Linked DNA regions of Homo sapiens. The protein of the gene in region 1 interacts with the protein of each later gene in a pairwise test. Each region holds a gene or a part of one and is shown in the gene's direction. Other genes may lie near its edges.

Evidence for each region.
Region 2: the proteins of APBB1 (region 1) and SIGMAR1 interact in binary tests that used the Homo sapiens proteins (3 or more experiments, as listed by UniProt).
Region 3: the proteins of APBB1 (region 1) and SOX14 interact in binary tests that used the Homo sapiens proteins (3 or more experiments, as listed by UniProt).
Region 4: the proteins of APBB1 (region 1) and SEPTIN6 interact in binary tests that used the Homo sapiens proteins (3 or more experiments, as listed by UniProt).

The regions. Positions count from the first base shown.
Region 1 is NC_000011.10:6,395,077-6,402,095, reverse strand, and holds the end of APBB1 (amyloid beta precursor protein binding family B member 1), read left to right. Parts: coding exon 1-14; intron 15-113; coding exon 114-119; intron 120-407; coding exon 408-522; intron 523-666; coding exon 667-751; intron 752-1,023; coding exon 1,024-1,107; intron 1,108-5,880; coding exon 5,881-5,996; intron 5,997-6,133; coding exon 6,134-6,310; intron 6,311-6,394; coding exon 6,395-6,562; 3' UTR 6,563-6,971; downstream 6,972-7,019. UniProt on the Homo sapiens protein: Transcription coregulator that can have both coactivator and corepressor functions. Adapter protein that forms a transcriptionally active complex with the gamma-secretase-derived amyloid precursor protein (APP) intracellular domain.
Region 2 is NC_000009.12:34,634,779-34,641,841, reverse strand, and holds the start of SIGMAR1 (sigma non-opioid intracellular receptor 1), read left to right. Parts: upstream 1-4,054; 5' UTR 4,055-4,144; coding exon 4,145-4,295; intron 4,296-4,421; coding exon 4,422-4,622; intron 4,623-4,729; coding exon of another isoform or gene 4,730-4,752; coding exon 4,753-4,845; intron 4,846-5,983; coding exon 5,984-6,210; coding exon of another isoform or gene 6,211-6,224; 3' UTR 6,225-7,063. UniProt on the Homo sapiens protein: Functions in lipid transport from the endoplasmic reticulum and is involved in a wide array of cellular functions probably through regulation of the biogenesis of lipid microdomains at the plasma membrane.
Region 3 is NC_000003.12:137,759,364-137,766,839, forward strand, and holds SOX14 (transcription factor SOX-14), read left to right. Parts: upstream 1-4,951; 5' UTR 4,952-5,421; coding exon 5,422-6,144; 3' UTR 6,145-6,971; downstream 6,972-7,476. UniProt on the Homo sapiens protein: Acts as a negative regulator of transcription.
Region 4 is NC_000023.11:119,690,167-119,698,129, reverse strand, and holds the start of SEPTIN6 (septin-6), read left to right. Parts: upstream 1-4,961; 5' UTR 4,962-5,024; coding exon 5,025-5,054; intron 5,055-7,963. UniProt on the Homo sapiens protein: Filament-forming cytoskeletal GTPase. Required for normal organization of the actin cytoskeleton. Involved in cytokinesis. May play a role in HCV RNA replication.

The DNA.
Region 1 (7,019 bases):
CGGGACAGTGGAAGGTGGGAATAGGGCTTGGGATTCGAGGGTGGGAGTTCATCCAGCATCAGAGTCCTCCTCTCTAACTCTGTTATTTGCCTCTCTTGTGCTGCTGGACCCAGAGAGAGGTACTATGCCTATTTTCCCCCTCCTACACCTGGACCAGATGCCTGGAAGCACCCAAGCTCCCCTCTTCTGCCCTGCCCCTTCCCACCCGCTATGCTCCACCATTACCCTCCACCTCAGCATGCTTGCCTGTCTACCCCTCCCCCCCAAGAAGGCAGCACCTATGGGGGACCAGCTGTGGGCAGAAGCCCTGGAGGAGCTGTGATGGGCAGGGAGGACGTGGGTGGGGTGGGGACCAGGCTCAGCACTGGATGGTACTGGGAGACACTGAGGTGCCCCTTCCCCAACAGGGACTTTGCCTACGTAGCTCGTGATAAGCTGACCCAGATGCTCAAGTGCCACGTGTTTCGCTGTGAGGCACCTGCCAAGAACATCGCCACCAGCCTGCATGAGATCTGCTCTAAGGCACGGCCCCCTCCACTCCCTGGACTAGTTGCCACCTTTGCTCTACAAGGGTGTGGGTGGGGTCACTGAGTGCTGTAGGGGGGCCCCAGGGCAATGAGGCTCTAATAGATTCTCCCTGGCTCCTCGCCTCCCTTCCTTCCTCAGATCATGGCCGAACGGCGTAATGCCCGCTGCTTGGTAAATGGACTCTCCCTGGACCACTCTAAACTTGTGGATGTCCCTTTCCAAGGTCAGTGTCAAAACCCCTCCAGGTCCAGCTCAGCTTTGTTGGCAAAGGTGGGTGACCCAAGGAAAGGCATGAGCTCCTGGACAGCGCTGATAGAAAAATGAACACATGAAGACTGAATACTCCAATACGTGGAGGGACTCCGGTTAAAGGGAGGCAGGGGACGAGATGAAAGTAGGGCCTCGGCTGGGCAAGTGTCCAGCTTATGCCCTGCTGGTGGGGCTGCGGGTGAGCAAGGTCTGCCACCATGATCAACCTTCTCTTCTTTCCCATAGTGGAATTCCCAGCGCCTAAGAATGAGTTGGTCCAGAAGTTCCAAGTCTATTACCTGGGGAATGTACCTGTTGCTAAACCTGTTGGTATGTGTGTCCTTCTATACCCAGGGGCTGCTACCTTGATCCTAAAACTCTGCCCCTACCCTCTGCCTTCCAATACTTCTTCTACCAGACCTTCCTCATGCTTGGTGTCTCCCTACCCTTTAAAATGCATCCCACCTCCCCATACTTCTGTCCTAGCTCTATTTCCTGTCCTGCCTATAGCAGCAGTCAGCACGCCTTCGCTGAGCATCAGCCACGTGAGTGGTGCTGAACCAGGCACAAAGGGAGACCCCACTCCTTCATCCCATGGAAAAGCTTTGGTGGGATTGGGAGGCTGATGTTAGATGACTGGAGGACACCAGACAGCAGCCTGTAGCTGGGTTTAGTGTTACAGCACCAGCTGTGGGCTGGGAGCATCTGGAGAAGGAAACAGTGAGCATAATTGTCACATACTTCATTGTTGCAAAGAATTTTTTTTTTTTTTTTTTTAAAGACAAGTCTCGCTCTGTCCGCCAGGCTGGAGTGCGGTGGCGTGATCTTAGCTCACTGCAACCTCCGCCTCCTGGGTTCAAGCAATTCTCCTGCCTTAGCCTCCTGAATAGCTGGGATTACAGGCTCCCGCCACCACGCCTGGTTAATTTTTGTATGTTTAGTGGAGACGGGGTTTCACTGTGTTGGCCAGGGCTGGTCTTGAACTCCTGACCTCAAGTGATCCACCTGCCTCGGCCTCTGAGAGTGCCGGGATTACAGGCGTGAGCCACTGTGCCTGGCCTGATCTGGTTAACTCTTATATTTCAGTGCTTTCCTAGTGTCTGCTATTTATTTGTTTATTCACTTAACAAATACCTTTGAAGCTTACCATGTGGCAGGCCCTGGACTAGGCACAGGGAGAACAGTGGCCACAGTCCCATTTTCCTAGAGGTTATAGAAGGTTATGGTAGAAAAAAACCAGGAATTAATAAAATAATCACACAAATAAATGTGTGAGTTATTCGTTGAGAGAAAGTAGCAAGATATAACAAAGGAATTTCATCTAGTCTGAGGTTGTAAAAGACTTCCCTGTGAAAGTGACATTTGAACTGAAATCCAAAAAATAAGTAGAAGTGAATGCGGTCAAGTGGAATGGAGGTGGGGGTGGGATGGGGGAAGATCAGGGTCTACAGTGGGAGGCACTTTGGCATTTCCAAGGTACTGAAAGAAGGCCAATGCAAGATGAGGCCGACAGCTGGGCAGTGGTCAGGCTGCCAGGTCAGGGACCTCAGGGGCTATGTTAATGATTTTTTCTTCATCCTAAGGGCAGCAAGGAGTTATTGAAGTCTCCGAGAGTGCACTTGCCTTAATCAGATTTGAATTTTGAAAGCTCACTTTGGCTATTTCATGGAGGGGACTGTTAAGTGGGTGGAGGTGGATGTGAGCAGCTCAGTTAGGAGGCTCTTGCTGTAGTCCTGGCCAGTAATGAGAGTATCTTGGGCAACAATGGAGCTGAAGAAGAGTGCGTGGATTCAAGAGCTGTTTAGACGGGTATAGTCAACAGGCCTCAGTGATTGGTTCGATGTGGGTGAGGGACAAGGATGACTCCTAAGTTCCTGGCTGTTGGACCTTCTGGATAGTGGATTATTTCTTTCAAGGTGGCAGATGCTTGAAGAGGCCAATTTGAGCGTAGAGATTGTGAGCTCACTTTTGGACATGCTGAGTTTGAGATGCCTTTGGGGAATCTGAGAGGCAAAGTCAGGTTGGCAGTTAGATTCACAGATCTGGAGCTGAGAGGAGAGGTCTGGGCTGGAGATAGGAGTTTTGGCATTATTGGGTTGTAGAGGTAATCAAAGCCATGGATGTAGAGTAGCTTGGCCCTGGAAAGTGGGCATCCTGAAGTGAGAAGGGAAATGAAGCTAGTCATAGCCTTGAGGCCCTCCAACATTCAATGGATGTGTAGAGGATGAAACTGCCAAGGATAGTGACAACTGGAGAGAGGCAGGAAGAAGAAAAGAGGCTACTTGAAAAAGAAGTGGTAGGGTATCATGTCAAAAGACACACAGGAAGAACTCAACAAATGTTTGATGAATGAAATAAAAAATGAATTAATGAATAAATGAGACTTGCTTCAGATTACATGGCCAGGAAAGCTAGACCTGGGAGTCAAACCCCGGTCATCTTTAATTCTCTGCACTTTCCCTTATACCGTGCTGACTTTCACGTCCAAAATCTTACATTGAAAGAGGGGACCCTTCTTAGAAAAGGTGGGGATTGAACTGAGGTTTTGAAAGAAGGTTTGGATTTGCAGAGTGGAGTGGGTATTTCATTTGGATTCGATGGCACTGCCAAAGACTTGGAGCTGGAGGTGAGAAAAGCATGCTGACCCTTACGCCTTTGCTTTCCTCCTTCTCGTCCTCAACTTCTAAACCCTTGTTGGCTCTTCCATTTGTTACCCCCATTCCCATATGTGCTTCTTTCCATCTACCACTTGACTCTGGTCCTCCCTATGCCAGATCAACTGCCTGTGACCCTTGACTGCTCCGCTTGGACAAGTGGTCTCTAAACTTACTTCCTGCTTTATCTTATGCTCGTTTTTAAACATTAGCCCATCCAGAAGCTGCAATATTCATTCATTAATTATTCATTTATTTAACAAGTGGTAATGAATGCCTGATACATGTCAGGCACTATTCTAGCTTCTTGGCATGCATTAATCAACAAAACTGACAAAGATCCCTGCTTTTATTTAGCTGACATTCTAGCAAGGAGAGACAGACAATAAAATGAGTAAACCATGGAGTATGTTAGAAGGCAACAACTGATACAAAAAAAAAAGAAGAGAAAAGCACAGCAGGATTAGGGGGATTGCATGTGGGGCTGGAGGTCAAGGTCACAGTGTAGGTTTTAGTCCTGAGTTATCAAATCTGACAGCCTTTTTCCATACCTTGGTCCACTGCTTTCACTGCTTCCCTGCCAAACTTCCCAAGACTCTGAGGCCAGGCTCCATCTCCCACAGCCCCATCTATTCAGCAGTTTGACTATGATGTCCCTTTCACACACCTGAACTTTGAGATTTCCAATTGCCCTGGCCTAAATGTCATAAACATCACACCCCTCTGCCTGGCTTTTGAAGCACTCTGCAATCTGACCTGGCCCATCCACTTCTGTGACACTTGGTTTTACCAGTTCGGGTGCATTTGCCCTTGTTGCCTTGAGAGTGACTTGCTCATGCATCTGGAATTTCTTCAGCAGATAAGCCCTGTGTTAGAATTGGGGACAGAGGGATGAATTAAATTCCATTTCTGTTCTTGAGATGGCCACGGCCCAGTGTGGAAAAAAGTTTTCCAGCAGTTACAAGACGTTATGGTAAGAGTTGTCTCAGAGTTGTCCTCTCCCTGCCCTGCAGCAGGCATGGCTTCCTAGACAGCACCTAGTTGGAGCCCTGAAGGATGACAGTCTGAAGTTTCTCAGTCCAGCAGGGAAAGGGCACTCAAGACAGAGGCTTTTCCCTCAGTTGCAGTCTGTGTCTCTCAAGGGCATTCTCTTCTCTTGCTTTGTATTCCCCATCTGCTTTACAGGCCATTTGCCAAGATTAGTTGTTAATAATAATGCTACACAAATCATCTGAAGCTCAGGGAGCAGTAAAATATGAAGCTTGACAGCTCTGGTGAGGCCAGTTTTTGGAAGACTTGTATGCTTTTGGGAGCAGTTTGGCCTTGATCCAGCTAGAAGTCAGATGAGCAAGGCCAAGATGGGAGAAGACATGCAAGGAAGACATTTGTCCTCTGCCCAAAAGAGTCCACGTGGTCTGCTCCTAGTGGGAGCTGAGAGCCACTAAAAGGGGCAGAGGGCCTGGGAGTGGACCACAGAGGCATGTGCCTTTTGCACTGGCATTGTGCAGAGACAGTAGATCACACAGCCAGCGTATGAGTGTGGGGACTAGAACTGATGCCTTTGCCACAACATGTGCTCCTGCCTTGGTGCTCTGCTGAGTGCAAGCAAAAGTGGGATCCATGAGGGGAAATGTTTAACAGCAGTTTGAGGTGGAGGAGGCCATGTGTTATAAGGGAAAGTTGATTGATCTGAAAGTCAGGAACCTTGGGTTCCTTGGCTCTTGAGCACATTATAGACATTCTTGAGTAGAACTAAGATCTTGAAAGCCCTTCTAGTTCTGAAAACTAGTAATATAGAGAAGAGGTAGGAGAAAGGCATGGCTAAGAACCCAGGCTCTGGAATCAGACTGCCTGAGCTCAGGTCCCCATTCCTCGATGTGACCTAAGGCATATTACCTATCTCTTCCGTTTCCTTATTTGTAAAATGGAAATAAAGTAATCTATTGTGATGTTGTTGTGTGGGCACAAATGAGGTAATACACTGTAATGACTTAGCACAATGTGATACAGAGTAATCACTCCTCAGATAGATATCTTAAAAAATAATTGGGTCTTGGGAGAGGACTGGCCTGTAGGGTCTGATTTGGGAGTTATTGTGGTGTGAAGCAATGTGATGTCTGAGTGTGATGAGCGCTGAGAGAGCATGATTTGGGGAAATCAGAACTTTGAGAGGTCAGTCAGTTCAGAAGTGTGGAGGAATAGGCAGAGCCGGTGAAAATAACGAGCCTAGGATCCAAGATTTTAAAAAGTAGGAAAATGTCCAGTTACTGAAGCCAGGGGAGGAGAGCCCCAGGGAAGGGATACTTGGACAGCGTTGTCCAAAATGTAGGCTGGCAAAGTGGGGATGGGGCAAAGGCCCTGGGTTTGATTGGGTGGAACTAGAGGTCCAGGGTAGAGCTGGGGTATCCTCTGTCTACCCTCAGTGGTATCTTGTGTCCATATGTTCTAGGGGTAGATGTGATTAATGGGGCCCTCGAGTCAGTCCTGTCCTCCAGCAGCCGTGAACAATGGACCCCAAGTCATGTCAGTGTGGCCCCTGCTACCCTCACCATCTTGCACCAGCAGGTAAAGAGCTGGGGTAGAAGTCGTGGCTGCGCCTTGCCATAGAGGGGAGACTGGGGGTGAGGGGAAGAGCTGCTAAGATGGATGTGGAACACAGTGTGGGGTTGGTGTTCCTTTTTAACTGAGTTCCCTCCATGCAGACAGAGGCAGTGCTGGGAGAGTGTCGGGTGCGTTTCCTCTCCTTCCTGGCCGTGGGCAGAGATGTCCACACGTTTGCATTCATCATGGCTGCCGGCCCAGCCTCCTTCTGCTGCCACATGTTCTGGTGCGAGCCCAATGCTGCCAGCCTCTCAGAGGCTGTGCAGGCTGCGTGCATGGTAAGCTACTAGTAGGGTGGTGTGGTGGTGGCGTGGCCCCATGGGAGGTAGGCTGGGGAGTGACTGCCCTGCTTGCCTCCGCAGCTTCGCTACCAGAAGTGTCTGGATGCCCGTTCCCAGGCCTCCACCTCCTGCCTCCCAGCACCCCCTGCTGAGTCTGTGGCACGGCGTGTAGGGTGGACTGTCCGCAGGGGTGTTCAGTCGCTGTGGGGCTCCCTGAAGCCCAAACGGCTGGGGGCCCATACCCCATGAAGAAGCCCCCACCTTCCCTCCACCTGCTTGTGTTGGGCCCCAGGGAACTAAAGGGTGTGGGTCAGGGAGGGGTCTAGAGGCTATTCCTAGGCCTCAGGCCTCCCAAATATGCCCCTCCCCAGTAGCTACGGTTCCCTGCCTAGGAGCTGGGGAGGGAGAGATCTAATCCCTTCAAGGAAGTGATAACACTGGAGTGGTAACAAGAGGAGCAGGAAGCAAGGCCAGCCCTGGTTCTCCATCCCCATGTGTTTCAGGTGGAACAGGAGGAACTGGTCCAGGCCAGGCCTCATCCTCCTGGACCCAGCAGGGGCAGAAGGAGGAAGGGACTGGTCCAGGCATGGGTCCCTTCCCCCTGCTCCATGGGCACCTCTGCTGTATTGATATCACTAATAAAGTCTGTCTGCACTGCTGTGTGCCTTCTTATGCCTGTACCACACCATCAACCCATTAGCCTGTG
Region 2 (7,063 bases), on another chromosome or scaffold:
TGCCTGTAATTCCAGCTACTTGGGTGGCGGAGGCAGGAGAATCGCTTCAACCCGGGAGGCGGAGGTTGCAGTGAGCCGAGATTGCGCCACTGCACTCCAGCCTGGGCGACAGAGTATGACTCAGTCTCAAAAAAAAAAAAAAAAAAAAGTGACAGCATGTAACAGCAGTCATATCTCACCTTCCCCCACCCCCATGGAGCCAAATAATTACCCCTTGAAGCCACTTGCTATGTGGGCTCTAAATTGATACCACATAGCCATAAAATGCCATAGTCTAGACACCATAACTCATACCCTATAGTTCAACAAGGTATAGCCAATCACTAATCAATGTTGTTTCTGTAAGCCAATGAGAATTCCTGTTAAACAATTTTGTGTCAGCCCACTCCTTGTCCTCTTTTGCCTTTAAAAACTTGCTTGTGGCTGGGCATGATGGTTCATACCTGTAATTCCAGCACTTTGGGAGGCCAAGGCAGGATGATCCCTTGAGCCCAAGAGGTCAAGGCTGCAATGAGCTGTGATCGTGCCACTGAACTCCAGCCTAGGTAACAGAGCAAGATCCGGTCTCAAAAAATAAAAATAGGCCGGGCGCGGTGGCTCACGCCTATAATCCCAGCACTTTGGGAGGCCGAGGCGGGCAAATCACGAGGTCAGAGTTCAAGACCAGCCTGGCCAACATGGTGAAACCCCATCTCTACTAAAAATACAAAAAAATTAGCTGGATGTGGTGGCAGGTGCCTGTAGTCCCAGCTACTCGGGAGGCTGAGGCAGGAGAATTTCTTGAACTGGGAGGCAGAGGTTGCAGTGAGCCGAGATTGCGCCACTGCACTCCAGCCTGGGCGACAGTGGAGACACCATCTCAAAAAAAATAAAATTAAATTAAGTTAAAATAAAGTGGCCAGGTGCAGTGGCTCACACATGTAATCCCACACTTTGGGAGGCCGAGGAGTGTGGATCACCTGAGGTCAGGAGTTAGAGACCAGCCTGGCCAACATGGCAAAAACCTGTCTCCACTAAAACTACAAAAATTAGCCAGGCATGGTGGTGCACACCTGTGGTCCCAGCTACTCGGGAGGCTGAGGGAGGAGGATAGCTTGAACCTGGGAGGCGGGAGTTGCAGTGAGCCAAGATTGCACTACTGCATTCCAGCCTAGGCAACAGAGTAAGAATCCATCTCCAAGAAAATAAAAAATAAAAATAAAAACCACATATAAAAATAAAAAATGCTTGTATCAACATTCCCCAAGGCAACTTGGAAAAGTGTCCCGAGCAGTCGTTCTCTACCTTGGCCCAAATAAACTCTCTATATTAATTTTGCCTCAGCTTTTTTTTTTCCTCACTGTTGTTTTTGTTTGTGTGTTTTTCTTTTTTGAGACAGAGTCTCACTCTGTCGCCCAGGCTGGAGTGCAATGGTGCAGTCTCCACTCACTGCAACCTCCACCTCCCGGGTTCAAACGATTCTCCTGCCTCAGCCCCCCAAGTAGCTGGGCCAAGTGGGTGGCACGCGCCACCGCGCCCGGCTAATTTTTGTATTTTTTAGTAGAGATGGGGTTTCACCATGTTGGTCAGGCTGGTCTCGAACTCCTGACCACGTGATCCACCTGCCTCGGCCTCCCAAAGCGCTGGGATTACAGGCGTGAGCCACCCCGCCCAGCCTGTTTTGTTTTTTTTGAGACGGAGTTTTGCTGTTTCACACTGAGGCTGCAGTGCAATGGCGTGATCTCGGCTCACCGCAACCTCTGCCTCCTGGGTTCAAGTGATTCTCCTGCCTCAGCCTCCTGAGTAGCTGGGATTACAAGCATGCGCCACCACGCCCAGCTAATTTTGTATTTTTAGTAGAGACAGGGTTTCTCCATGTTGGTTAGGCTGGTCTCAAATTCCCAACCTCAGGTGATCCACCCGCCTCGGCCTCCCAAAGTGCTGGGATTGCAGGTGTGAGCCACAGTGCCCGGCCCCTTTTTCTTTTCTTTTTTTTTTAGAGACAGGGTCTCCCTCTGTTGTCCAGGCTGGAGTGCAGTGGCACGATCTTGGCTCATTGCAACATCCACCTTCTGGGTTCAAGCGATTCTTCTGCTTCAGCCTCCCGAGTAGCTGGGACTACAGGCACCTGCCACCACGCCCGGCTAATTTTTTGTATTTTAGTAGAGACGAGGTTTCACCATGTTGCCCAGGGTGGTCTCGAACTTCTGAGCTCAGGAAATCTGCCTGCCCACCTTGGCCTCCCAAAGTGCTGGGACTACAGGTGTGTGCCACTGTGCCTGGCCCTTTTTTTTTTTTTTTTTTTTTTTTTTTTTGAGGCAGAGTCTCCCTCTGTTGGCTCAACTGCAACCTCCACTTCCCAGGCTCAAGCGATCCTCCCACTTCGGCCTCCTGAGTAGCTGGGACTACAGGTGTGCGCCCCCACTCCTGACTAATTTTTGTACTTTTTGCAGAGATGGGGTTTCACCATGTTGCCAAGGCTGGTCTCGAATACCTGGACTCAAGTGTTCCGTCTGCCTCAGCCTCCCAAAGTGTTGGGATTACAGTTATGAGCCACCTCGCCCGGCCTCAGTTTCTTTCTTTAAGGTCAAAAATGTATGAGGCTACTTTTTTCCAGTTCCTTTATGTTTTATATATATAACCATCACATAAAATTCTCACCATGTGAGGCACTAACTGCTTTATAAATATTAACCCATCTAATCTCATCACAATGAAGATATGTACTATGAGGTAGGTACTTATCTCCATTCCATTTTACAGGTAAGAAAACTAAGTTACAGAGATTTTAAGTAAACTGCCCAAGATCAGACAACTAGTAGGTAGCAGGAGCCAGGCCTTGAACTCAGGCAGTCCAGCTCCAGAGTTTATTTCTTAATCACTGCACAATGCTACCTCTTTTCTCTTTTGTTTCTTTTCCTTTTTGCTTTCTTCTTCCTCTGCCTACCCTTTGCTGTTGGTGCTCTCCAGGGCTCTGTCTTTAGCCTTATCTTACTCTATTCTCTCTCCCTGTGAGATTTCATCCATTCTTAGAGGTTTTCTGTAGACTCTCCAGTGAGATCTCTAAGCTGGGGAGTAGGACCATTGTTTCTAGCCATATCCCTAATGGCCACCACAGAACTTGGCACATACAAGTGCCAACAAAGTATCTGAATGAATGACAACTCCCAGCTCTATCTCCAGACTGGAGCTGAGCTTCGAGACCTGGACACTCAACTGCCCACTAGACATGCAAAGGATGTTAGCCAAATAAGGGGAAAGTGGGGATAGGATAAAGGGGGAAAGAGTATTCCAGGAAGAAGAGATCAAGCCCTGCCAACTCCATTTCCAGAGTTGTTAAGCTCATTTCTTTCTTCCATCTCCACTGACACAGACCTTCCCTCTTACCTGGCCCACAGTCATGGTCTCCCTGACTCATCTTGCTCCCCTCCACTCGACAGTCCTGTGCCACTCGGTGGCAAAATCTAATCCCCTTCCTCCCTTGCTGATAACCCTCAGCTGGTTTACAAGGCCTCCTCTCACATTTTGTGCCGCAGAACAGAGAAGGAATTGTAGGCCCCTGAAGACCCCAAGCTGTCTCTCCTCGGAGGCCTTTGCTCTAGGGGCTGGTCCCTGTGGGCTGGCATGCCCCTTCTGCGAGCTCTTAAAGACACTGCTCAGGTGTCACCGCCTCTGGAATGCCCACCCTGGGGCTCCCAGCTTGAACTGCCTCCTCTCCGCTTCAGTCCTGGTAAAGGCGGGCCTTAACAATCGTTGAGTCCCAGAAGGCTTCACTTCCGGGCTCGTCTGCTTCACCAGCCAGTGAGCTCGGGCGAGCCCGTCCATTCTGGGTCTCACTATCCCCACACCTATCCGTATGTAGAGTGGCGCTAGCTAGGTCAGACCTCGCCTGAAGACCCTGACATCTGCCGCTGGGCGACTTGGCCCCGCCCCCTTGCCTCCCTTGCGCGGCACCGCCCCACTCCTCCGTGCTCCCCCCGAGGAAATGGTTCAACCGAAGGGCGGTGCCAAGGTGCCCGGGCCGCTCCGATTGGTCAGGGCGAGCCGTACCACGGCGGTGGCGGGGGAGCGCTTCGTGGGCAGCCGGCGGGCTCCGAGGCCGTGAGCGCAAAGCCTCAGGCCCCGGCTCCCTCCTGAGCTGCGCCGTGCCAGGCCGCCCGCCGGGATGCAGTGGGCCGTGGGCCGGCGGTGGGCGTGGGCCGCGCTGCTCCTGGCTGTCGCAGCGGTGCTGACCCAGGTCGTCTGGCTCTGGCTGGGTACGCAGAGCTTCGTCTTCCAGCGCGAAGAGATAGCGCAGTTGGCGCGGCAGTACGCTGGTGAGCGGGCAGAGGGCAGGGAGGGGAGCGGCCGGCCTGGGAGCGGAGCCTAGGGTTCCGAAGGCGCCATCCCCGGACCTAGGACCGGTGCCAGCCCTGACTCCGCCGCCCCTCTGCCTCCGCCAGGGCTGGACCACGAGCTGGCCTTCTCTCGTCTGATCGTGGAGCTGCGGCGGCTGCACCCAGGCCACGTGCTGCCCGACGAGGAGCTGCAGTGGGTGTTCGTGAATGCGGGTGGCTGGATGGGCGCCATGTGCCTTCTGCACGCCTCGCTGTCCGAGTATGTGCTGCTCTTCGGCACCGCCTTGGGCTCCCGCGGCCACTCGGGTCAGTGCTAGCGGCGGGCCAGACTGGGAGGCTGGGGTTGTAAAGGGGCCCATGCCCTCCTTTCTGATGTTTGGCTGGGCCATGCAATGGCGCGAATACCCTGATAGTGTCATGTGCGATTGTCACTCAGGGCGCTACTGGGCTGAGATCTCGGATACCATCATCTCTGGCACCTTCCACCAGTGGAGAGAGGGCACCACCAAAAGTGAGGTCTTCTACCCAGGTGGGTAAGAAGGCTCTGTCAGAGAAGTGGGTCCCTTCACGCGGGGGGTGCCCACAATTGCGGGGAGCATGGCATGGAAAAGGAGTGTGTTGGGGGGGCCCTCCTCATGGTTCCCTTCCTCCACCCTCCCATAAGCCACAGGTGATTGGTTGGGGCAGAGCTGAGGGACTCTTGCTTTCCTCTGTCAAGGGGAAACAAAACATAACAACTTCCTATTAAACATGTCTGATTTTTATCTGCCCAGGCACAATTTTGCCCAGACAGTATTCCAACAACTGTTGGGGAGACAATGGGTAATCAGAAATGCTCTCAATACCCCAAAAGACAAGACAGACAGTTATCTTTTTATTTGTTTGTTTTTTGAGATGGAGTCTTGCTCAGTCGCCCAGGCTGGCGTGCAGTGGCGCGATCTCGGCTCACTGCAAGCTCCGCTTCCCGGGTTCACGCCATTCTCCTGCCTCAGCCTCCCGAGTAGCTGGGACTACAGGCGCCCGCCACCACGCCCGGCTAATTTTTTTTGTATTTTTAGTAGAGACGGGGTTTCACCATACCAGCCAGGATGGTCTCGATCTCCTGACCTCGTGATCCACCCGCCTCGGCCTCCCAAAGTTCTGGGATTACAGGTGTGAGCCACCGCGCCCGGCCGCTCCCCTGCCTTTTTTTTTTTTTTTTTTTTTTAATAGTGAAACAATTTACTTAAGAAATAGAGCACTGGACTTCCCAGTATATTTGAGGTTGGGTGTATGCATCGCAGGCATGGTGGTTGAACAGCTACACTTTTCAGATAAAGCCTCACAAGTCCTGGAACTACCCCTTTCCTAGCTACAAGCCCAGCCCAGGTTTAGCTAAATTTCTGCTTGATTCGAGTGAGGCTTGGGAGTGCAGACTTCCATACAGTGGGTCCATGGCCAAGCGAGGTAGCCGTCCATGGCTTCTCCAAAGAGAGGACGTGGGTCAGATGATGCCACAGAACATTTAGGAGTGGCCATCTGGGCCAGCCCAGTGAGGTAGGGCTTTTTGTTTTTCTGAAGCTCCCTCTCCATTCCCCACCCCTAGTTAGTCCATGGGCCAGGGAAGCAGCAGCCATGGAAGGGCAGGGCAGAGCTGGCTTTTCACTTGGGTGCTCCCTGTCCCCCAGGGGAGACGGTAGTACACGGGCCTGGTGAGGCAACAGCTGTGGAGTGGGGGCCAAACACATGGATGGTGGAGTACGGCCGGGGCGTCATCCCATCCACCCTGGCCTTCGCGCTGGCCGACACTGTCTTCAGCACCCAGGACTTCCTCACCCTCTTCTATACTCTTCGCTCCTATGCTCGGGGCCTCCGGCTTGAGCTCACCACCTACCTCTTTGGCCAGGACCCTTGACCAGCCAGGCCTGAAGGAAGACCTGCGGATAGACAGGAGCGGGCAGGCCCGCACATATCCACTTGCTGGAGCCCATGTTTACAGACAGGGACATACACCATGCAGATCCTGAGTTCCTGCTGTATGAGCAGGGATATCCATGCTTATGTATCCAAACACAGAGACCCATGGGAACAAATGAGACACATATAGATACTGAGACCTGTGTGTACAGTAGGACCATGCACTCACACCCATCTGGAGAGGGAGCCCCCGGTATACCAAGGGAGCCAGTTGTGTTCAGACACACACATCACAGCTTGACTCACTAACTGAGGCCTTTCCATAGCTCCACAGCTTCCCACCTCCTCCCCACCAAACCGGGGTTCTAGAGTTAAGGATGGGGGAGGGTATTATACTGCCTCAGTCTGACTCCTCAACCCAGCAGCAATTTGAGGGGATGAGGGGGAAGAGGAGCTGCCTTTTGGAGGCCCCCTTCACCTGCAGCTATGATGCCCTTCCCCTTCTCCCCTGTCCTCACCATATGCCTTATCCCCATTCTACTCCCCTGCTATGCAAGTGCCCCTGTGGCTTGTCCCCAACCCCCTCAGCAACAAAGCTCAGCTGGGGAACGAGAGTAATTTGAAGAATGCTTGAAGTCAGCGTCTTCCATTCCAGAAAGACCCCCATTCTTCCTTTGGGGGTATGATGTGGAAGCTGGTTTCAGCCCAGGACCCACCACTGAGGAGAGGATCTAGACAGGTGGGCCTAATTCCAAGGGGCCCTTCCTGGCCTGGAGAAGGCCTTTTACACACACACAACACATACACACACACACACACACACACATATCACAGTTTTCACACAGCCCCTG
Region 3 (7,476 bases), on another chromosome or scaffold:
ATCCCGCCACTGCACTCCAGCCTGGGCGACAGAGCGAGACTCCGTCTCAAAAAAAAAAAAAAAAAAAATTTGTACTGAGTTGGTGAGTCACATGAGCTCTGCTACAAACAGACTCAAACTACTCAAGTTAAGGCAGTTTGAAGCAAAAAAGTCTCCTTACCTGGGCGTGCTTGGGATGTTAAGACAGAAGTATCCTTCAGCCCAGCCCAGCACTGCTCTAACAGCTCCAGGATGCCAAACATGTACCCCTGGTTTTGCTCGGCTTCTCTTTGTTTCTTGGTGTAAGCGGTGCCCTCCTGTGCCATCTTGTCTGCAAGAGACAAGTGGGATTTTACAAAATTTCAAGATGCCGGCATGGGCTGGGCTGGGTTGGGTTCTGGAGGGAAAACCCCGGAGAAATTACCAAGAAATGTCTTAATAAGACCAGAGCTCTGGATCCTCTGGGCACTCTCTAGAGGCGGGATATATACAGTCTCTGAATTTTAAAATAGAAAACAGTGGGCAGCGGGGAACGGAGTAGAGGGAATCAGAGGTGCCAAACATTAAAGATATTTTGGGTAATAAAAATTAAAAGTTCATGTATCGCAAGGACAAAAAACCAAACGCCGCATGTTCTCATAGGTGGGAACTGAACAATGAGAACACTTCGACACAGGAAGGGGAACATCACACACCAGGGCCTGTCGTGGGGTGGGGGGAGGGGGGAGGGATAGCATTAGGCGATATACCTAATGTAAATGACGAGTTAATGGGTGCAGCACACCAACATGGCACATGTGTACATATGTAACAAACCTGCACGTTGTGCACAGGTACCCTAGAACTTAGAGTATAATAAAAAAATTAAAAGTTTATGATTTAAACAAAGATTCTTATTTCCTGGGATCATTTTGTCACCTCAGTGCTTGCTTCTGGGTTATGGACACTTGGGGGGGTGGGCCGGATTAACTGTCTTGTCTCTAAACACCTGGGTGCGCTGGCGCTCACTCTCAGCTGCGAGCTGAAGCCCACGCTGCTCTCAGGCTTCCCGCAACAGGCACCTGCGACTTCGCTCACCAAAATCTTCCAGTGGCCACAGTGAGCGGGCAGGACTGGTGCCAGCAAGCCCCAAGCATCCCAGGCCCTCTGGACGCAGGTGACTCTTCTGGCCTCTTTGGAAAGCCATTGGAGCTCGAGAGGCATAGCCAGCTGCCTCCTTTCCGTCCATCCCCAACCGCGTTCTCTAAGCCACGTTCTGTGCGCCTTACTCCCAGCACTCAGCCATTCCCCAGCCCCAGAGGCCTTGGAGTAGTGACCTCTGCCCACCAGAGAGGAGGGGGCCGGAGGGTGGGGCGGAGCCTTGTGGCAAGGCAGGTGGGTGCAGGCCTCTGGGGCCCCAGACTGCCGCGTCTGGCTCTACCAGGCTGTGTCTCGGGCCCCGTGCCTGCAGCTGCAAGGCGGGGAAAGACCTATCGGGAAGATCCACCTCGGCCTGGGCAGAAGGAAACTTTACTGAGAGTCTTCTCTGAGTTTGGAATTATGCGGAAATTGAACCCAAGATGAATAACACGCAGCCACAGCCCCAGAGAAGCTCGAAGTCTAGTGGGCTGCACCGACTGCGACAGGGACCCAAAAGAGGCTGGGGAACAGGGATTGAAATGGAAGTGTGAGAGTGAGAGCATAGAAGGGGTCCTAGCCCAGCCCAGGAAACAGAAAAGTCTCCCCATAGACAGTGAGAGGCTTGTACTGATACCTGAGGTACGCGCAGGAGCTGCGTGAAAGGAGAGGCCCAGAGCCAGAAAAGAGGAAGGCGCATCCTGGACGCTCTGCGCCCTGGAGGGAGACGAAAGGCCCGGAGAGAAGCAGATTAGGTCGGTGCCCTTAGAGGCCTCTTCCTTCACTTCCGGGAAACAGCGGCGGTTCCCTGACAAAATCCCTGTTGCTCGGGGGTTCGGACGCCTTGCTAAGGCTGGCACGCAGCGGACCTTGAGTAGCTGCGCTGTGTACTGAACGTGTGCACAGCTTCTCCAGGCAAATGTGCAAGCGGAAAGACCTCATCCAAGCGTTATCTCCAGCCCTGGAGGAGAATGAACTGGTAGCCTGGGGCCAAACTTCAGGCCGTGGACAAAGCAGGAGGAGTATTTAGGCAACCTCTGTCCTAATGCTTGTTCTGGTTGTGACCGAAGTTGCTGACTCTCCTCAGGGGTCACGTCTCCAGGACGTGCTACCCGGTGGTTTAGACCCGTCAGGGAGGCACAGCGTGAAGGGACAGCGCAGCGCAGTAGAGGCACCTGCTGGAGACAGCACCAGGCCAGACCCCAGGATCACGGGAACTCCTGCTCCCGCCACAGCTCTAAAGAGTGTTGAATAAACCGGTGGTCACCGGTACTGCGTAAGGGGTGTGCGTGGCTTTGCAGTTCGCCTAGGAGACAAGCTGATGCACGGCCTGGAAGGTGCAGCCCTCATCCCTGCGTTCCCTCCCCGCGCGGAGTTCCTGTCTCAAGGCCAAGACGCGCAGCGCTGATGCTGGCCCCTTCCTAGGTCAGTGCAGCTGGACCAGGCAATCGGGGTCTCCGAAACGTCGGGGGGTCAGCTGGCGCCCTGCCCACCATCGAACGCCCTTCGTATCACTCCGCTCCTCATTGCGAATTGGACTGCGCATTGGCTGCGACCCAAGGCTGAACACAAGAAGCTTGGAGAGGAGCTCGGGCGTTTGAGGAGAAGGAAATATGAGGAATTGCAGGAAGGCGCTCGCCTGCCCGAACTGCCTCCGGGCAACTGGAAAGGATTGTCCTGGAAACTGAGAGGAGAGAAAGGACGTAGGACCTTGTGCCAGATCCCCTTGCTGAGTAATTTCCAAGAGCTTGGTTTGCATTAACCCAGAACTTTGGGTGTGCGTTTGGTGTCCCCTGGGGGGTTCTAGAGTGAGAGATTGGCGGGTCCCCTCCGAACGCTGGATCTCGCTGCAGATATCAGTATTTCTCTCATTCCTTCCCAAAGCCGTCGGGATCGCCCAGTAGAATTAGAATTGGGTGATTCCTGAATCTCCTATCCCTGGCTGGCTCTGAATATAGCGCACCGCTGGTCAGACCTGAGTAGGGGTTGCCAGCGACGCTCGGAAACCCTTTCCAGACTGGGCTGAAAAGTGCGTTTGCTTCCTGAGACCCTAAGCTAAATGAAACTTCCTGCAGAGAAAGCAGGGTTACAGGGCTGGATGGAGGCTCTGGAGAAAGGCCAGAGCTGGGGTTGGGAAGGAATGTAAAGGCTGTGCACCTGTTTGCCAGCCCTCGGAGGTGGAGCCCATGGCTAAGCAAATCAAGCGCAGGATCAGTCTTTCCAGCGTGGTTTATCTGCATGGCAGGTGTCGATTGCCCCAATAGTCTCATCAGGTGTTCCACATTGGGCTGCAGAGCCATGAAATCCCTAGGCGTGACGTCTAGTGGAATGGGGGTGAAAATAGGGATTTTCAAATCCTATACATCAAGCATCACTCCCAGAGTCACTTTTGACAAATCACCTAGTTTTTCTCAACCTTAGTTTCCTAATCTGTAAAATGGGGATATTGCCCACCTCTCTGAAAAGTGCGCCAAGGGTGAGAAGTTCCACGCGTCTTTCTAATTTTAGGAAGGGGAAGCAAAGTCTTCTCCTCAAACTTGATACACTACATGCTAGAGAAAGATCCTCCCTTCCGGCCTCCTCATTCCCTGTCACCCTCCCCCACTCCTAGCCCCTCGGAGCCAACGGAGCCTTGCGCGTTTCTGGCCGGTCCTCCCAAGAGAGAATGGTGCAAAAGCCAATAAGCCTGGAACACACGCAGGTCCCGCCGGGCCTGGGACAATGGTTTCCATTTAATAAATATTTCCCCCAAGGGCATTTCACATCGGGCAGGCAATTATTCAAAGGAAACAGGCGCGCAGGTTGGCTCTGCGGGTTATTTCGTCCTCTTTACCCGAAGAATGCTCATTTGACGCAAGAAACGAGTCTCGCAGCCTCCCTGGGTGGGAAGAGGCGCCCAGGGACAAACCGACCCTGGTTGCGATACACCGTGAGACTCCGCTGTAGGGCCGCTGCAGAAGGGGCACCGGGAAGAGCCCCATACCCAGCCTCTAGGCTCTTCTTACGGTATGAACATTTGTGGAGTAAAAGTTGGAGGTTTAAAGACACTAAATAATAATAACATAAATGGGAACTGCAATAGAAATCTCAGCCCCATCCCTGCCCCAAAAGTGAAGAACAGGTCGTAGTGCTTTTAAGGGCTCACCAACTAGGGTTCGAAATCTCTGCATTGCCTGACGCGAGGCCTTCCAGGAGCAGGTCAGACAACATTGCTCAGCCACCCAGGGTCCCAGCGCTACGCCCGGGCGCCGCATCCTGGGGCAGGGGTGGATGCCTAGTTGCAGGGGCTTCCCGGGAGAACACTGCCAAAGCACCGCCGAGGGTGGGGCGCGAAAAGTTTATTTCGCTTTTACCCTGAGCCTGCTATATGTTATTTTTCTCTTCCAAGGATATTTGACAAGAGGGCAAAGTGCTGTCCTTGCATTTCGCGGCAAAGCTGTCCTATTTATCAACACAAGCTCTCGCCTCGCTCCCTTTGCTGTCCCTTCCCCGGCCTTTGTATTTCAAGCCCTAATTCTCTTTCACAACCGGGAAAGGAAACAGGAGACGCGGAAGAGTTTTATTTGTTGACAGTGCCCGAGACAATGTGGAACCGAAGTCCCCAGTCTAGAGCTAGCCTCTCTGCTCTAGCCCTCTCTCTGCCTCTGTCCCTCACACCTCTCCCCGCCCCCACCAGTCGCGCTCTCTGTTTCTTGCACCGGCGTGTTGGCAGGTGCGCCCCCTCGGCTTCTCTGCTGCTGATTGGCGCCCAGGTTGGGGAGTCGCCGCCCCGCGCTTATGTCAGAGTGCGTGCAGTCCCGGCCCACCTCGCCTTTGAACTTCGCCGCTTTTGGCTCTCGTTCACCAGCCTCCCCGCATTCTCAGCCAGGTGCAGCGCTAGGCGCGGCAGCTCCGGGAAAGCCACGGGAAGGGGGAGCCACGACTGGAAACGCAAGAGGAGAGAAGGGAACTAGAGAAGGCAAAGGTGGAGAGGGGGAGAAGGAGGAGCTTCTTGCCCTGGCTAAAAAATTACCTGGCCACTTAATCCCGGAGACTCCGATACTTGGGTCCCAGCCCCTGGTGCCTGAAGCCCCCCGGCCGATCGCCCTCTCCTCCCCCGCCCTTTCTGCCCCCACTCGCTCCCCCGGGGCTGCCTGGGCGCTGGGACTGGCATGATCAGCTGAACTTTGTGGGGTCAGCGCTTCTCTCTGGCTTCCCCTCAGCGGCGCCAAGGCGAGGGGAGCGCAGAACCCCGGCTCAGGACGGACAGACAGACGGCCAGCCGCGCCCAGGCTCGTCTGCAGAACCCTTGCACTCCCTACCCCCACCCACCTAGCCGCCGGGACCATGTCCAAACCTTCAGACCACATCAAGCGGCCCATGAACGCCTTCATGGTATGGTCCCGGGGCCAGCGGCGCAAGATGGCCCAGGAAAACCCCAAGATGCACAACTCGGAGATCAGCAAACGCCTAGGTGCCGAATGGAAGCTTCTGTCCGAGGCAGAGAAGCGGCCATACATCGATGAAGCCAAGCGGCTACGCGCCCAGCACATGAAGGAGCACCCTGACTACAAGTACCGACCTCGGCGCAAGCCCAAGAACCTGCTCAAGAAGGACAGGTATGTCTTCCCCTTGCCCTACCTGGGCGACACGGACCCGCTCAAGGCGGCTGGCCTGCCCGTGGGGGCCTCCGACGGCCTCCTGAGCGCGCCCGAGAAAGCCCGGGCCTTCTTGCCGCCGGCCTCGGCGCCCTACTCCCTGCTGGACCCCGCGCAGTTTAGCTCGAGCGCCATCCAGAAGATGGGCGAAGTGCCCCACACCTTGGCTACCGGCGCTCTGCCCTACGCGTCCACCCTGGGCTACCAGAACGGCGCCTTCGGCAGCCTCAGCTGCCCCAGCCAGCACACGCACACGCACCCGTCCCCCACCAACCCTGGCTACGTGGTGCCCTGTAACTGTACCGCCTGGTCTGCCTCCACCCTGCAGCCCCCCGTCGCCTACATCCTCTTCCCAGGCATGACCAAGACTGGCATAGACCCTTATTCGTCAGCCCACGCTACGGCCATGTAACCCCCAGCCCGGCCCGGACCTGAGGCGTGGTCTGAAAGCCGGGTCTGCACCCTGTCCTCTGAGCCTAGCCCCGGCCTGCAGACGCCTCCGGGGTCAGCCCTGCCGCTGTCCCTTACACCACCCAGACTTTTCCTCTCTCTTCCAGGGGGAAGGGTGGGGCGTCCTCCCGGACCCAAGGCGCAGACAGGTACCGGAAACTTGCAAACGTTATGTCAGCTACACAGCTGCCCCTATCCCGACTCTCCCAAAACAAATCTCCGACTGTACCCCCTTTGGACAAAAAAGTAGGCAGTTTTGCTTTATTTATATCCCCTTCACTCTCCTCGGATAGGCTTTGGACTCTGAACTCCCAGATTCTGATATTATATCTACAATATGCATATATTTTTTCCTTTTGTCCCCTGAAGAAAAGAGTTAGCTGTGTCTCTGTGTTTTGCCATCAGACACAACTAGGAGCCATTTGCTCTTCATGTATGGGGGGGAAAGGCTTCAAAGTTTTAAATTACAGAAAGGGAAACATTTCTATTTAAAACCATGCTATGATAGTGTTTGCTTCTTTAAAGGGAAAACAAAAAGGACCTACATGGTTATTTACTTTGTGTAAAGCAGTGCTTCTAGAGATCTAAGTTTACTTTTAGACAGAATGTCGGGTTATGAAGTCAGGAAGTAGAAGGTGAACAAAAAATTAAAAGAACAAAAACAACCTAAATGGTCATAAATGTTTTGACGATGTCTTGGAAATGTACCTAGAAGGATTTTACCTCGTTGCTCTGTTCATTTGTTGAACAAAGACGTTTTGAATAAAGACAATCTGTCATTGTAAAAAAGTAACCTTTGATGTGCCTAAAATCTGAAGTCAGGAGCCAGGTTGGAGGGACTGGAAAGTCGGGTGCGGGGAGGCTGAAAGTGCATAGAGCGACTTTAAGCAGTGATGGCTGGTGGCTGCCCCCCGTTGGCCCAGCTTGGTGGTCTGCGGGTTGGGTGTAGAAGGGCCTAGAGCTTCGGATCCGTCCGGAATGCGCCCTGGAGATTGCTTTTTGCCTTTAGAGGCTAGACAAAGGTATCGTTCCCTGGGACTTCACTCTCTCCTCCCATTCTTCCCAAAAGGGTCAGGCCACTTCAAGGAATGAATGAACTAAGTCAAAGGCCGACCCAGACCGCTGAGATCTGGGTGAGTTTACTTTTTAAAAAACCAAACGCTGAAGGAGCAGGGAGAAGCACCGAGTCTCCTGGGAACCAGTTGCGCGCTGAACACCCCGTCCTGCATTGGATGTTTAAGTTCAAAGCATGGGAGAAGACTGGGGGAATCAGGTATTCTGCCTTTTTAGGTGT
Region 4 (7,963 bases), on another chromosome or scaffold:
CTTTCCCTACCTCCACCTGGTCTCTCCCTTGACACAAAGGGATTATGGGGATTACAATTCAAGATGAGATTTGGGTGGGGACACAAAGCCTAACCATATCGGGAGGCAAAGTTTATCTTTCTAACTCTTCTAGTGAGCTAGCTCCTGCTGGGTTCCCTTCTATTACTTTTTTGGCACCCCCTTTCCCATACCCTCACTCCTCCCACCATAGAAATCCAACAGATCTACAATTATTGGCAATGGCCCGGCCTTCAAACTTCTCCTTCAATATCCTACCAAACCTTACCAGTCCTGTATCCCAACCCATCAGGGCTAGATTTTCAAGATAAACCAGTGGTCTTCAAACTTCAGCATAAATCAGAATCCACTGGAGCACTTGTTAAAATACAGATTCCTGGGTCCCATCCTAGAAGTTCTGATTCAGTAGGTCTCGGGTGGGGCCCAATAATTTGCATTTTTTATAACTTCCCATATGCTGCTGATGCTTCAAAGGCCACATTTTAAGAAACACTGGAAAGAAACTAAAGCAAAACCAGGGGCAGCAGGTGATAATGCAGAATTGAGGAAAGGGATCTTTAGTTCATTTTGACTCAGCCCCTTCACAGAGTTTCTGATTTAATTGGCACTGTCTGGATTTGGTGAATCCCGGATCATTTTCCCTGCTTCACCTTGTCTTCCTCCTCCAACTTTCTTCTCTTTCTTTTCTTTTCTTTTCTTTTCTCTCTCTCTCTCCCCCTCCCTTTCTTTTTTTTGATGGAGTCTCGCACTGTCACCCAGGCTGGAGTACAGTGGCACAATCTCGGCTCACTGCAACCTTCACCTCCCAGGTTCAAGCAATTCTCCTGCCTCAAGTAGGTGGGACTACAGGCATGCGCCACCACACCCGGCTAATTTTTGTATTTTTAGTAGAGACGGGGGTTTCACCATGTTGGCTAGGCTGGTCTCGAACTCCTGACCTCAAGTGATCCACCTGCCTCAGCCTCCCAAAATGTTGGGATTACAGGCATGAGCCGCCACGCCCGGCCCCTCCTCCAACTTTCTGATCTTATTTTTCAGATGGTTCTCAGGGCTTCTCCACTTGAGACTGACTCTACCATCTTTCTCGTTCTCCTATCACAAAGCCACAGTTTCAGGACAAAGCCCTTTCCTGACCTCTTAGCTCCATTTCAGTGCCCTCTTCTCCCTCCCTGCCCCTGAGTTGCTTGCTGCTCCTCTATCCAGTATTAGCACCCCCAACTCCAGCAGTGACCTGTGGAAAGCTGGGCTCCAATTAGGGCCCACTCTTATCTAGCAGGGGTAGCCATTTCTGCTCCCAGGCAGTAGAGTCTGGCTCCACAAACATTGGCATGCTAATGACAGCCACCTGCTTGCCCCTGGGAAGTCTCTGTTTGTTGCAGCTTCTTTAAGGACATGGAAATACTGAAGCCACCTCATTTACATGCTTCTGTTCATTCCTTTACTCAACAAACATTGATTGAACACCTGCCAGACACCATGCTGGGCCCAAGGGACCCCACAAGGAAACATCAAACATGAGCACATACATGTTCATGGAAGCGCCCGGGAGTCCCAAATGACTCTTCATAAAGGGGAATCTTTTGGCTTCACTCATCAACGAGGACAGACATTCAAGGAAGAAAACTCACGAACTGACCACTCATGAGCCCTCTTGCCTCCTCAGCCCTTCCATCTCCCCTGTTCTTGGGAAGGTGACCCGGGACAAAGACTGAAAGGCATGATTTCAGGCCGGGTGCGGTGGCTCACACCTATAATCCCAGCACTTTGCAAGGCCGAGGCAGGTGGATCACGAGGTCAGGAGTTCAAGACCAGCCTAGCCAAGATGGTGAAACCCTGTCTCTACTGCAAATACAAAAAAAAAAAAAAAAAAAAAATAGCTGGGCGTGGTGGTGGGCGCTTATAGTCCCAGCTGCAGCAGAGAATTGCTTGAACCCAAGAGGCAGAGGTTGCAGTGAGTAGAGATCACGCCACTGCACTGCAGCCTGGATGACAGAGCACTCCGTCTCAAAAAAAAAATAAAAAAGGAAAAAAAAAGAAAGGCATGATCCCAGAGAGTTTCCAAACCTCTTTATTGAAATGAATGTTCTGATTCACACGTCTCAGTCGTCGGCCCACTGCACTGAGTGAGATAAGGTATGTAAAGCTAGTGAGCTAACACCTCTCTCCATATTGACACACATACACTCACCATGCATTGAAATACACTGACACACCAACACATGCCAACACACACATTGACACACAGATATACAGACACACAGCTAGCACACACTGACAATACACACGAACACACCGACACATCTACTCACACATCAAGACCAACACACACACTGACCCACACCCCACCGAAGGAGGCTGGAGGCCCAGGCCCCAGGAGGGACTTGTAGCCGCAGGTGGGCAGGTATTGGAGGAACCAAAGGGTCCCAGGAGACTTGAATTAAGCACTTAGTTCAGGTCTTCGAGGTTCAGCGTTTTGGAGGAGGAGGACGCAGTGAGGTTCTGGTAGTCTCTAGGGACAGGAGGGCCGAATGGGGCATATGGATGAGACACCAAGGATTCCGTGCTCAGGTGCCCCCAGCGCTGGGCCGGTAAGTACGGAGCTTCAGTCCGCGAGGAGTGCTAAGGCGGGCGGGGCAGTGCGTGGGGGATTCTCCCGGGAGACCCGCAGCCCTCCAGTCCCCTCCCGTTCCGGCAGCAGCTTTCTGCTCTGGCTTCCAAATTCTCCCCTTTTGTCCCACCACCACCCAAACCCCAAGTCCAGATCGGGGCTAGTGACCTCGGGGCCTTTCAGTCCACCACGCCCTAGCCTTTGCCAGGGAAGAGCCCTGTCCCAGACACCCAGCCTGGAAGCCGCCAGTCACCTCTGACTCCCCGCCCCCATGCGGTTGGGGCCCAAGCCTCACCGTGGTTCCTCAGATATAGCACTGGTCCCCCGTGTCACTGCCAACCCAGTCCAGGGCTCAGGCCCTGCCCCAAAGCTCCAGAGAGTCTGAAAGACTCCAGCTGCCCCTCTTCCTTGCCACCGCCATCCGCCCTATGGCCTGCGCCTTCTGTCTCGCGGAGCTCCTCTGCGCTGATCCCTGATTTTGCCAGGCTCTTCTCTTTAGGCCGCTCCTGGGTCTCCAGCACAATGAAGGCGCACAGTGGCGCTCCCTGAATACTTGGCTCTTCATGACTGTCCTTACTGCTATTCCCTCACTGTGTCTCTTCTTTCTTCTCCCCGCCCCCCTCGCACGCATCCAAGTTCTCTGCCCTCAGCTTAATAGAGTGCCTCCTGACTGCGAGGCCCTGCACTCGGCCCTGGGATGCGTTTGCTGAGTCCTTGTTCTCCAGGCGCACAGGGTACATACATAAAGGGCTTCCCGAGAGAGTGTGAGAAGCTCCATCCAGCAGGTGGAACCAAGTGCCAGGCATGCTCTTCTTTGGCTACTCCATTTTCTTGTCTTCCCTGACTTCTCCGAGACCAGGGCCTCTGGATCGAGTCCCTTCTTCCTCTCTCTCCCTGGTTCCTTCTTTTCTTTTTCCCTCTCTCCTGCCTCCTCCTCAGCTGCTCCAGCCTTGGGCCTTTACGGGGTCATCTTCCATGCTCCATTGGGGCCCCCTCTTGGGCCCGGGTTTCCTCCATAGCCTTGTCATCCCCTCCCCCATCTGGGGTCCCTCTGGCGGGCCCAGGTCTCTCTCCCACACCAGGGAACCTGCCCTTTTGAGGAGTGGAATGTACTGTCCCTCCCGCTGGGGCCTCGGGCATGCCAAATCTGCCAGCGTGCTCCAGTGACAGGGAGCTAGCAAGAGGCCAGTCCCAAGAGAGAGGGGAGGGCGCCAAGGCCGGAGAAGTGGAGAGGTGCCCACGAGAGAGGACCCGCGGAGGTGGGCCACGGGGATAAGGAGGGCGGGCGGGCGCACCCCTGCCTTCGGAAGTTCTCTCCTCTGCGCCCTATTGGCCGCCTTGTCCCGGGCTGAATGAGGGTCAAGGAGAAATCAGGGGGCGGGACAGAGTGACTGGAGGCCGCTCCCCGTCACCCGCCCCTCCATTTCGCTCCATAGAGCTGAGAACCTTCATCTCCAGCCCTTCCTCTGGTACTAGAAGGGGTGGGTGGTCTTGCTGAGCGTCTAGGGCTGGGTCGGAGAGAGGAGGCGTGGGTTCCGTCTGTACTAGGTACCCAAAGGTGGTGAGCTTGGCTCCACGAAATTACAGCCCACAGCACCCAAGGCTTGGAAACCCCAGGGCAGAAGCAGCGTCTCAAGACCTCTAGCCTCGGACCCCACATGCCACAGCTCAGCTCAGTTGCCGGGCTGCAGTGCGGCTCCCCCCACGGGCCCCCTTTCTAAGCTCTACTGTGGAGCGGCAGGTGCCGCAGGCCTCCCCGGTACCTCGGCCGCAGCTGCGCTCCCGGGCCATGGAGGGAGGGAGACACGACAGTGGGGCATCGAGACTCCAGCGGCCAAGGCGCACCCATCTAAGCACCTTGGGATCTCGGTGGAAAGGAAGGGGGGTAACGGGGGCCGGGAGGAGAACTGCAGAGCTCGGCCGCTGAGCAGAGTATGGGAGGGGGGAGGGGCGGGGGCTCCCTTCCAGCCTTCGGGGTCTGGGGACTTAGGGATGTAAAGGAGAGCAGGGGGGTGTGACAATTCAGCAGAGGTCGGGACGTACCACGGAGCCAAGTGGCGGGGGGGGCAGAGGACGTGGTCACCGAGGGGAGCCCCCGCCCCCCTTCGTAGAAGCCTATGGCTGGGGTTGCAGGAAGAACTGGAACTGGTCTGGCCATAGGGGGAAGCGGCGCGTTAAATCCGCCCCCTCTCCATACCCTACTTTCAAGGGGTGGGCGGTAGAGGGGAGGTTGGGGTTGGAGCAGCGGCGAGGGGGCCCCTCCCTTGCACCTCCCCCCACCGGACTTGGTCGCGCCCGAAGTGTAACACTTTCTCTTTGTCGGAGGAGCTCCTCTGTTTCCTGTGCAGTAGCTCCCGTTGCGGCGGCACCCGTGGCAGCCCTGGCGGACGCAGGAGCGATGGCAGCGACCGATATAGCTCGCCAGGTGGTAAGTGCAGAGCTTGGGTGCCAGGGCCGGGGCCGAGGGCCTGGTGAGGGTCAAGGAGACCTGGCCGCCGCCGCCACATCGCGAGGAGGGCAGTGGGCAGCATCCAGGAGCCAAGGGCACGGTGGGACTTCTGCTCCCGGGGTCAGCAGCTCAGTCCCTCAGCCTGTCCCGGAAAACGGTGGTGGCGCGCGGGGGGCGGGGGGCGGCAGGGGGGCAGGCAAAACCTGCGGGCCGGCGGCTGAACTTGCATTGCCCAAGAGCCGCAGTGAGCGCCACCGCCTCCCTCGCTGCAGCTGCGGCCCCACGGCTGGGGCGTTGCCGAATGAATGGCCGTAGGAGCCGCCGAGCCCTCCGGGTCCCTGGCACCCTGGCCTTGCCGCGCCCCTGCGCACGGCTGCCCGTTGTGACCCGGGACCGCACAGGCAAAGAGGCGCGGGGCTGGGGTTAGCCTGGGGCAGAAGGCGGTGAGTGGCGAGGGGGGCGGGGAGGTGACTGGCTGGGATAGGGTTTCTCTATATGCATTACATATGTGACTGCGTCTGTGTGTGTATCGGTGTGCGCGTATGTGTGCACGCGCGCGCGCTCGTGTCTTCCCGGGCGGGCGGCGGCGGCGCCGGGGTTCTGTCTGTGACCCAAAGAAGTCCGCGTGTTTCTCTGAGTGTGCTCACCTCTGTGGTGTGTGTCCGAACGCCTCTCTGTCTGCTTGTGCTGTGTGCCTCTGGGTCTCATTTGTGCGTCAGTGTGGGGTGCAGTTGGCTGGCCTGTAGGTGGCTGGCTGCGTATTTTGGCATGTTTTGGAGCGGGCCTCTGAGGATCTGTCTCGGGTGCATGTTCAGTGTAACTGGGCTTGTGTGCCAAAACCTGTGGAGCTGGCTTCTTTCTATGGAGACTCAGGAAAATAAGTGTGAGACTCGCAAAAGCGGTGCCGTCTCTTTTTTTGTTGGCGACCGACTCTGGGAAAAAAAAAATCTTCATTTAAAGAACTGAAGTTTTCCAGCCTGGGATGTGCAGAGAAACCATGTTGAAGTGACCTGAGGCTCCATGTTTGTTTTTTAAACCAGAAGTTTGGTTGCAAAGGGCGATGAATTCCATTTGGGGGGGACACCCTAGCTATTCTATTCATCCATGGGTATCTGGGACTTTAATAAGCCCACCAGCACCCCGAGGTGAGGAAGGAGTGGGAGACAGAGGTAGGTCAAATCCCATGACACCACATACTACTTGACGAAAATCTCTGAACCACATAAAAATGTTTTTCAACCTTGTAGCTTACTTATTTAGGAAAATAGTTCATGCAATGCAACTACAGTACAAAAAAAAAGCCTCTAGGTATTTGGTGTAATTGAAATTGATTTTACAAAATCTGAAGCCAGAATCTGATAATATTTTCTCTACAGAATATGTATTAATGTCTCTTTTGTCCCTGTTTGGAAGGGCAGGATCATTTCTTCGGAACCTCCTCCACCCCCTGCACACCCTAGCACAGAGCACTTTATGCAGTCATGTTGTGGAAGGACCAGGAGTAGACAGGGGACATTCTCTGTGATGATGCAATTTGAGAGAATTTTCTTCCCCCAAGATTGGCACTCTCGTTGTTTATTGCTTTAGTGTTTTGAGGGCTCCCTCTTTTCTGCTGTGGCTTTTCTGCTCCTGGTTACCTGCATTTCAGAGATGGTATAGCTGAAGTAGAGGAATTAATCTCTGGGATTACACTAGCTCCATCCAAAAATGACGCTAATGATTTTTCATGTCAGCTAATGAATTTGCATCGACCTGTCCTCCATACTCTCACCAGTTTCTCTTGCCTGGATTAGGATTGCAGGGCAGATGTTGCAATGGGGAACATTCCAGAAGGTTGTGTGTGTTTCACCTCAGGCACAACTCAGGCAACCTAGAGATGCCCTTTGTTCTGCAGATGGGGGTGAGGGGGTGCTTTAGGGCCACTTGGTTTGCTTTGCATGGCTCCAGTTTGCTCTGGCTGGCCTTGCCATACTGTATGATGAAGAACATAATTGTACGCCAGATTCTGAAGCTGAAAGAGCAGCCTAAGCACTCGAGACCTTGTTATCGTGATAAATGGGTTTCTGGGAAAACTGACGTCACTCTCCATGCCCCCCTCCCCCAGCCAGTGAAGCTCCTGTTTATGTGTCATTTGTCTCTCTGTTCTCCTTTGTGTCTGCAATAAGTTGTAATTCACCAGGGAAGACGGAGTTAACTCAGGAGACCTTGGACATCTGGTTGCTGCTTGTTTCCTCCAAGGAACATGTATTCAGGGTTTGGGAACAGAAGACTAGAGAATAAACCTAAGTGTGGCTAGCTTAGGAATTCTTTTTTTTTTTTTTTTTTTTTTTTGAGACGGAGTCTTGCTCTGTTGCCCAGGCTGGAGTGCAAGTGGCATGATCTCGGCTCACTGCAACCTCAGCCTCCCAGGTTCAAGCGATTCTCCTGCCTCAGCCTCCCGAGTAGCTGGGATTACAGGCACCCGCCACCACACCTGGCTAGTTTTGATATTTTTAGTAGAGGGGGGTTTTCACCATGTTGGCCAGGCTGGTCTCGAACTCCTGACCTTGTGATCCACCCGCCTCAGCCTCCCAAAGTGTTGGGATTACAGGCATGAGCCACTGCTCCCGGCCAGGAATTCTTTTTAATGAGCTCTGAGACGTGGTACCATGCGAGTAAGTGCCCTAGTGTGTGTGTGTGTGTGTGTGTGTGTGTGTGTGTGTGTGTATGTGTATGTATGTGGGGGGTGTGTTCTTTCTAGAATCAGTTGAGAGTCACTGTGGGTAAACATCCTTAGTGACTAAAACAAGCCTTCAAGTTGTTGGGTAGGGCTTACATTGCACGCAGCCAACTTGGAAGTTCAATTCTGGTGCACATAATACAAGTCCGTCCCATTTGAATGAACACCA